Linked DNA regions of Homo sapiens. The protein of the gene in region 1 purifies or fractionates together with the protein of each later gene. This does not show direct contact. Each region holds a gene or a part of one and is shown in the gene's direction. Other genes may lie near its edges. The genes, in order: ATF7IP2 and ATF7IP.

Region 1 (3,830 bases):
GGTTCTACCTCAATTTTAATGGAAAACCTTTACCACTAAGTTAACCCCAGGCCCAAATGGCATTAGTGGTTAATTATTCTAATATTTAAGGAAAAATAACACCATTCACACAGAAATTGTTCAGAGACTAGAAAGACTTTGTAGTTTGTATGAGGTCAGCAAACCTTTGATATCAACACCCAATAAAATAGACCCATCTCTCATTAACATTGATATAAAAATTATAAACATAATGTTAGCCATTTATAGGCCAGGCACAGGCCCATAAATTGTCTAATGTCAGCACTTTGGGAGGCCAATGCAGGAGGATTTCTTGAGCCCAAGAGTTGAAGACCAGCCTGGGCAACATAGTGAGACTCTGTCTTTAAAAAAAAAAAAAAATTAGCTGGGTGTGATGGGCGCCCCTGATGTCCCTGCTACTTGAAGGGTCAGGTTAGAGTCTTGTTTGAGTCCCGGAGGTTGAGGCTGCAGTAAGCTGTGTTCATGCCCACTGTACTTTAGCCTGAGCAACAACGTGAATCCATGTCTCCAAAAGAAAAGAAAAATGAAGTTTTAAAAATGAAACCATTAGGCCAGGTGCGATGGCTCACACCTGTAATTCCAGCACTTTGGGAGGCTAAGGTGGACGGATCACTTGAGGTCAGAAGTTTGAGACCAGCCTGGCCAACATGGTGAAACCCCCTCTCTACTAAAAATACAAGCATTAGCTGGGCATGGTGGTGGGCACCTGTAATCCCAGCTACTTGGGAGGCTGAGGCAGGAGAATTGCTTGAACCTGGGAGGCGGAGGTTGCAGTGAGCTGAGATTGCCTCAATGCCAGTGCACTCCAGGCTGGGTGACAGAGTGAGACTCTGTCTCAAAAAAAAAAAAAAAAAAAAAAAAAAAGACACCATTGGAAAAATCCTATGGCAGTAAAGGAATAGAACAAAAGGCATGAGACATAAGCCAAAAAGTGAAAGGCAGACATAAATCAAGCTACAGGTGGACCCTGAATTGTGATTTGACATGATTTTTAGTTTATGATGCTACAGAAAGTGATAGGCATTCGGTAGAATATAAAGCCATGAGAAATTCAAGACTTCAGTATAAAATCAACTTTGGGTTAAATTATTTTGCTCAATTGTAGGCTAATATGAGTGTTCTGAACATGTTTAAGGTAGGCTTAGGTTTTGCTATGATGCTCGGTAGGTTAGTTGTACCTGTATTAACTGCATCTTTGACCTAGGATATTTTCAATTTCTGATAGGTTTTTTGGGATGTAATACTACTGCAAGTCACACAGCATCTGTATGTCAATAGTAATATGAAGGCCAGGTACAGTGGCTCATGTCTGGAATCCTAGCACCTTGGTAGGCCGAGGATCATTTGAGGCCAGGAGTTTGAGATGAGCTTGGGCACCATAGTAAGACCTTGTCTCTACAAAAAAATTTTAAAATTAGCTGAGTGTGATGGCACATACGTGTAGTCCCAGCTGCTTGGTAGGCTGATGTGGGAAGATCACTTGAGCCCAGGAGTTCAAGGCTGCAGTGAGCTCTGATCTCAGCACTGTGCATGATAGAGAGACCTATCTCTAAACAAACAAAAACAACCAAGTAATGTCAGGTGTGAAAGGATTAAACAATCCCATGAAATGGCAGAGATTTTCATACTGAAGGGAAAAACAGCCTTGGCCTATAGGCTGTTTACAGGAGACAGACTTTGGATTCAAAGATGCAAATAGGCTGAAAGTAAAAGGATAGATGAAGATACAACATGCAAATAGCAACCATAGTAAAGCTATCGTGCCTATACTGATTTCAGACAAAATATACTGAAACAGTATTGCTGGAGATACATAGGGACATTCTATAATGACAGAAGAGTTGGTGCCTCAGGCATACAAATCATAAACATATATGCACCTACTAAGAGAGCAGCAAAATGTATGAAGCAACTATTGACAGAATTGAAGGAAGAAATGCACAGTTCAGTAATAATTGGAGAATTCAATACAACACTGTCATAATGGATAGAAAACTGAGGAAATCAGTGAGACAAGAGACGACTTGAGCAACACTAAACCAACTAGACTTAAGAGATATCTTTGAACAGTCCACCCAACAACAGCAGAATAGACTTTTGGAGTGTATGTAGAACATCCATCAATATAGTCACACTAGGCCATGAAGCAAACCAACACACTTAAAAGGACTGAAATTATGGGAAAGAACATTATCTGACCAGTGAATAAAATCAGAAATCAGTACTAAAAAGAAACTTGAGAAATTTACAAATATGTTGAAATTAACACTCCTAAATAATGGGTCAAAGAAATCATGAGGTTAATTAGAAAATACTTTGAGGTGAATGAAAATGAAGACAAACATATCAAAGGTTTTGGAGGGTACAATTACAGCAATTCTTAGAAAATTTATAGTGATAAATGCTATATTAAAAAAGACCTCAAATCAGTAACCTAGACCTTTTAAGAAAAACTGGAACTAGAAGAACAAACTGAGCCTGAAGTCAGCAGAATGTAGGAAAAAATTAGTGTGGAAATTAATAGAATAGACAAAAATAGAAAAGGAAACCATAAATCATTTTCTTAAACGATCAAGAAAATTAAACATTCAGCTAAACTGAGCACAAAAAAGGGAGAGAAGACTCAAATTACTAAAATCAGGAATGAATGAGGGGACATTACTTCTGACCTTCCAGTAGTTAAAAAAAAAAATTATAAGGGAATACTATAGAATAATTCCAATTGTATGGTACTCCATTTAATAGATGAAACAGACAAATTCCTAAAAAGACACAAAACTGCCAGAACTGACTGAAGAAGAGGAAAATCTGAACAAACATAAACAAAGCAGTGGAATTAGGACAAAATGAAAAGCCCCAAATCAGATGGTTTTATTAGTAAATTCTACCAAACATTTAAAGGTACAGTTCTTCAATTCTTTCAAGAAATAGAAGAGGACAGAACATTTCTGAAATAATTCTGTAAGGCTAGTATTATTTGGATACCAAAAGCAGACCCCAATACTATAGGAAAAGAAAACTGCAGAACGATGTTTTTTTAATGTATAGAGATGTGAAAATCCTCAACCAAATACTAGTAATTTGAAATTAACATAAAAGGATTATACACCATGACCAAGTGAGATTTATTTCAGGAATGCAAAATAAATTTCTCATGCAAGAATCTTTAATGTTAAGTGCCATATCAAAGAGAACAAAGCTACATGATCTTTTTAAGAGATAGTGAAAAGCATTGATAAGATCCAGTGTCCCTTCATGATAAAAACATTAAACAATAGGGAAAGTTTGGAACTTCCTTAACTTGTTAAAAAGCATCTGTAAAAAAACCCACGGTTAACATCATAGTGGAGGATTGGAGGTTTTCCTGCTAATTCAGGAACAAGATGGACCCCTCCTGGCATTTCTATTCAACATTGTACTGGAGGATCTAGTCAGGAAAATGAAGCCCATTTTTTTTTTTCAAATAATAAAAGCATCGAAATTGGAAAGGGAGAAGTAAAATATACACGGATAACATGATTTAATATGTAGAAAATTCTAAGAGATTCACAAACCATTAAAGATAAAAGCCAGTTCAACAAAGTTGAAGGATGGAAGATCAGTGTACATAAATCTGTTTTATTTCCATATACTTGCAAAGAGGAATCCAAAACTGAGATTGAGGAAAGCATATATAATAGCATCAAAAAGTAGTACAAAACATATACTCTGAAAACTGCAGAATGTTGAGAGAAATTAAATAAGTAAATAGATAATCCCATGTTCATCTAGCCAGAGGACTCATATATTTTGGTTATTAACCCCTGATC
Region 2 (3,830 bases), on another chromosome or scaffold:
TATTCCTGCCTCCTGTACATCTTAGTCCTTAAAGCAATTTTGTTTTATTCTACTATTGATTGATGACATTGTTTTTCTTCAGAACCACATCCTTGTGCTCTTTTGTTTGCCTTTATTGCACTGGCCAGATGTTAACAAGGAAATGGTTACAGGAAACATCCTTGTTTTCTTCTGATCCTATTTCAATATCAGACATGATATCTCTAGTTTTCTTGGTAGATAACCTTTATCAGATTTGAGTAAGTTTCCTTGTATTCTTAGTTTCTGGCAAGTTGTAATTATGCATCAGTCTTGAATTTTGTCAAATGAATATTCTGTATTTGTTGAGGTAATCCTTTGTTGATTTTGTCCCTCTGTTCTGTTTATGTGGTGAATTAAATAGCTTGATTTGTTTTGTGGTTTTCTTTTTTGCTTAACAGAAGTTTATCGTCTCAGAGTTCTGGAGGCAACACATTTGAAATCACGGTGTTGTCATTGCCATTCTCCCTCTGAGGGTGCTGAGGGAAGGATCTGTTCCAGGCCTCTCTCCTAGCTTCTGGTAGTTGCTTGGCTTGTGGTACCATAACTTCAATTGTCACATGGCATTCTCCCAGTGTGCATGTCTGTCTGTGTCCAGATTTTCCCCTTTTTATAAGGACACCAATTGTATTGGATTAGGGCTCACTTTAGTACCCTTATATTACCTTGATTACCACTGTAAAGGCCCTATCCGAATAAGGTCACATTCTGAGGTACTGGGGCTTAAGACTAATATCTTTCTGGGGATGTGGGGTGTGGGATGCTGCACAATTCAGTCAGTAACATCCTGGTACCAGACATTCAGTTTAGGCAAAACTCGTAATTGTACACTCTGCTGGGCATGAAATAAAGTCAGAATGCATCATGGCTTGTTCATGGTCAACACTGCTTGATTTTTGAATGTGAAATCAGCCTTGTATTTTTCTAAGCGAGCTTCACTTGGTCAGAATTCATTACCTTTTTAAGAAACCTACTTCTAAATAAGTCATAGATGAAAGAAGAAATCATGATGGAAATTAGAAAATATTTTAACAGAATAATGTAAATGACACATTAAAATGTGAGATGCAACTAAAGCAGCTCTTAGAGGGAAATTTATAGCTTTATATGCACACATTACAAAAGAAGAAAGATTGAAAATAACACTTAAGCTTGAATCTCAAGGAAAAGGATGACATGTTAAGCTCTTTCCAAGAAAAAGTAAGTGAAAAGAGATAATAAATATTAGAGTAAATAATTAAAACAAGAAAGCAGATATAAAACCAAGAAATATCAGCCAAGTAAAGGTTCATACTTTAATAAGTGAATAGAATTGATAAAACTGTAGCACAACTTACCAAAAAAAGAGAATACACACACACACACACACACACACACACACACACACACACACACAACCTTTGTATTTATTTTGAAATTTTTTTGTAGTGGCATTACTGAGATAAAACCACATATCTACTATTCACCCACTTAAAGTACAATTCAGTTATTTTTAGTATATTCACAGAGCTGTATAATCATCACCATAATCAATGTTAGAACATTTTCATAACCCTGTAAAGAAATCCTGTACCCTTTAGCAGCTACTCCTCATTTTCTCCAGAATCTTCCAACCCTAGGTAGTCACTGATTTACTTTCTGTCTCTAGATTTGCCTACTCTGGACATTTCATATAAATTGAATCATTCAGTATGTGGCCTTTTGTGACTGGCTTCTCTCACTCAGCATATTTTTAAGGTTTATGCATGTAGTAGCATGTTCAGTACTTCATTCCCCTTTGTGGTTGAATGATATTCTGTTGTAGGGGTATGGCACATTTTATTTATCCATTCATCAGTTATGGAACATTTAGGTTGTTTCCAGTTTTGGGCCATTATGAGTAGTGCCTCTATAGAGCATTTGTGTACAAGTTTTTGTGTGGACATATGTTTTCATTTCTCTTGGGAAATGAATGGAATGGAATCACTGGGTCATATGACAACTCTGTACTTCACATATTGTGGAACTGCCTGTTTTCCAAAGCAGCTGCACCTATTTGCAATCCCACTATCATTGTATGAAAGTTCCAGTTTTTTCACATCCTTGCCAACACTCATTATTCTCGTTGATTGTAGCCGTCCTGTCGTGTGTGCAGTGTTATTTCATTGTGGTTTTGACTTGCGTTTCCCTGATGTCTCATGATGTTTATTGCTTATGGACTTTTGGCTTAGGGGTCTCTTTCTGGAAATGTCTGTTCAAGTCCTTTGACCATTTTTAAATTGGGTGATTTATTATTGAATTATAGCAGTTCTTAGATATTCTAGATATAAAAGTCTGTATTCTATATAAATATATATTCTGTATTCTAGATATGAAATTCTAGATTCGAGATAAAAGTCTTATCAGGCATATGATTTGCAAATATTTTCTCCCATTGTTGTGAATTTTCTTTCTTGATGGTAATCTTTTGTTAATATGTTTATAGTTCTGCCAATCTAAGTATGCTTGGTTGCAAATGTAATCTTTCCTTACATGTTTCTTAATTCTTCCTCCTTTTTCCTTTATCTCTATACCTGTTATTTCCCTACTGTTGTTCTTACACTTTTATTTTTCTTTCTCATTTTCTTCAGGTACTTTTTTTTTTTTTTTTTTTTTTTTACTTTATCTACCTTTTTTTTGCTTAAACATCTCCATACTCTGTGAATTCCATATTGGAAAAAAAAACTTGTCCCTTTTCCCCCTAATACTTTCTAGTTGATTTTCTAGTAGACTATGGCCATTTTTGATTTTGTATTACACAGATGCAGTAAATATGATAATTAGTATACAACAAGCAGTAGGTTTTCTATGTCTTAAACATTACATGAAATGTGCTGCTTGCATCTCTTCTAAGATCAATTTGTATTAAGTCTACAATTAGGTGGCTTCTGTTTCAGTTATTAAACTCTCTTTCTCTTTTTTCTTAAAGATTCAGAATGGACAGTTTAGAAGAACCTCAGAAAAAAGTCTTTAAGGCTCGAAAAACGATGAGAGTGAGTGATCGTCAGCAACTTGAAGCAGTGTACAAGGTCAAAGAAGAACTGTTGAAAACTGATGTCAAGCTGTTAAATGGCAACCATGAAAATGGAGATTTGGACCCAACCTCACCTTTGGAAAACATGGATTACATTAAAGACAAGGAAGAGGTGAATGGCATTGAAGAGATTTGTTTTGATCCTGAAGGAAGTAAAGCAGAATGGAAGGAAACACCCTGTATCCTAAGTGTTAATGTAAAAAACAAGCAGGATGATGATTTAAATTGTGAACCTTTGTCTCCCCATAATATAACTCCAGAACCAGTCTCTAAACTGCCTGCTGAACCAGTTTCTGGTGATCCAGCCCCTGGTGATCTGGATGCCGGAGATCCAGCCTCCGGAGTACTGGCCTCTGGTGATTCCACCTCTGGTGATCCCACCTCTAGCGAGCCCTCCTCTAGTGATGCTGCCTCTGGTGATGCAACCTCTGGTGATGCCCCTTCTGGTGATGTGTCCCCTGGTGATGCCACCTCTGGTGATGCCACTGCTGATGATCTCTCCTCTGGTGATCCCACCTCTAGTGATCCCATCCCAGGTGAACCGGTCCCTGTTGAACCCATTTCTGGTGATTGTGCCGCTGATGATATAGCCTCTAGTGAAATAACTTCTGTTGATCTGGCTTCTGGAGCACCAGCTTCCACTGATCCAGCCTCTGATGATCTGGCCTCTGGTGATCTATCCTCTAGTGAACTGGCCTCTGATGATCTGGCCACTGGTGAACTGGCCTCTGATGAGCTGACTTCTGAATCAACCTTTGAT

The links.
Region 2: the proteins of ATF7IP2 (region 1) and ATF7IP purify together in Homo sapiens (affinity purification with mass spectrometry; one large-scale study listed by BioGRID and IntAct). This does not show direct contact.

The regions. Positions count from the first base shown.
Region 1 is NC_000016.10:10,392,458-10,396,287, forward strand, and holds part of ATF7IP2 (activating transcription factor 7-interacting protein 2), read left to right. Parts: intron 1-3,830. UniProt on the Homo sapiens protein: Recruiter that couples transcriptional factors to general transcription apparatus and thereby modulates transcription regulation and chromatin formation. Can both act as an activator or a repressor depending on the context.
Region 2 is NC_000012.12:14,420,944-14,424,773, forward strand, and holds part of ATF7IP (activating transcription factor 7-interacting protein 1), read left to right. Parts: intron 1-2,965; coding exon of another isoform or gene 2,966-2,972; coding exon 2,973-3,830. UniProt on the Homo sapiens protein: Recruiter that couples transcriptional factors to general transcription apparatus and thereby modulates transcription regulation and chromatin formation. Can both act as an activator or a repressor depending on the context.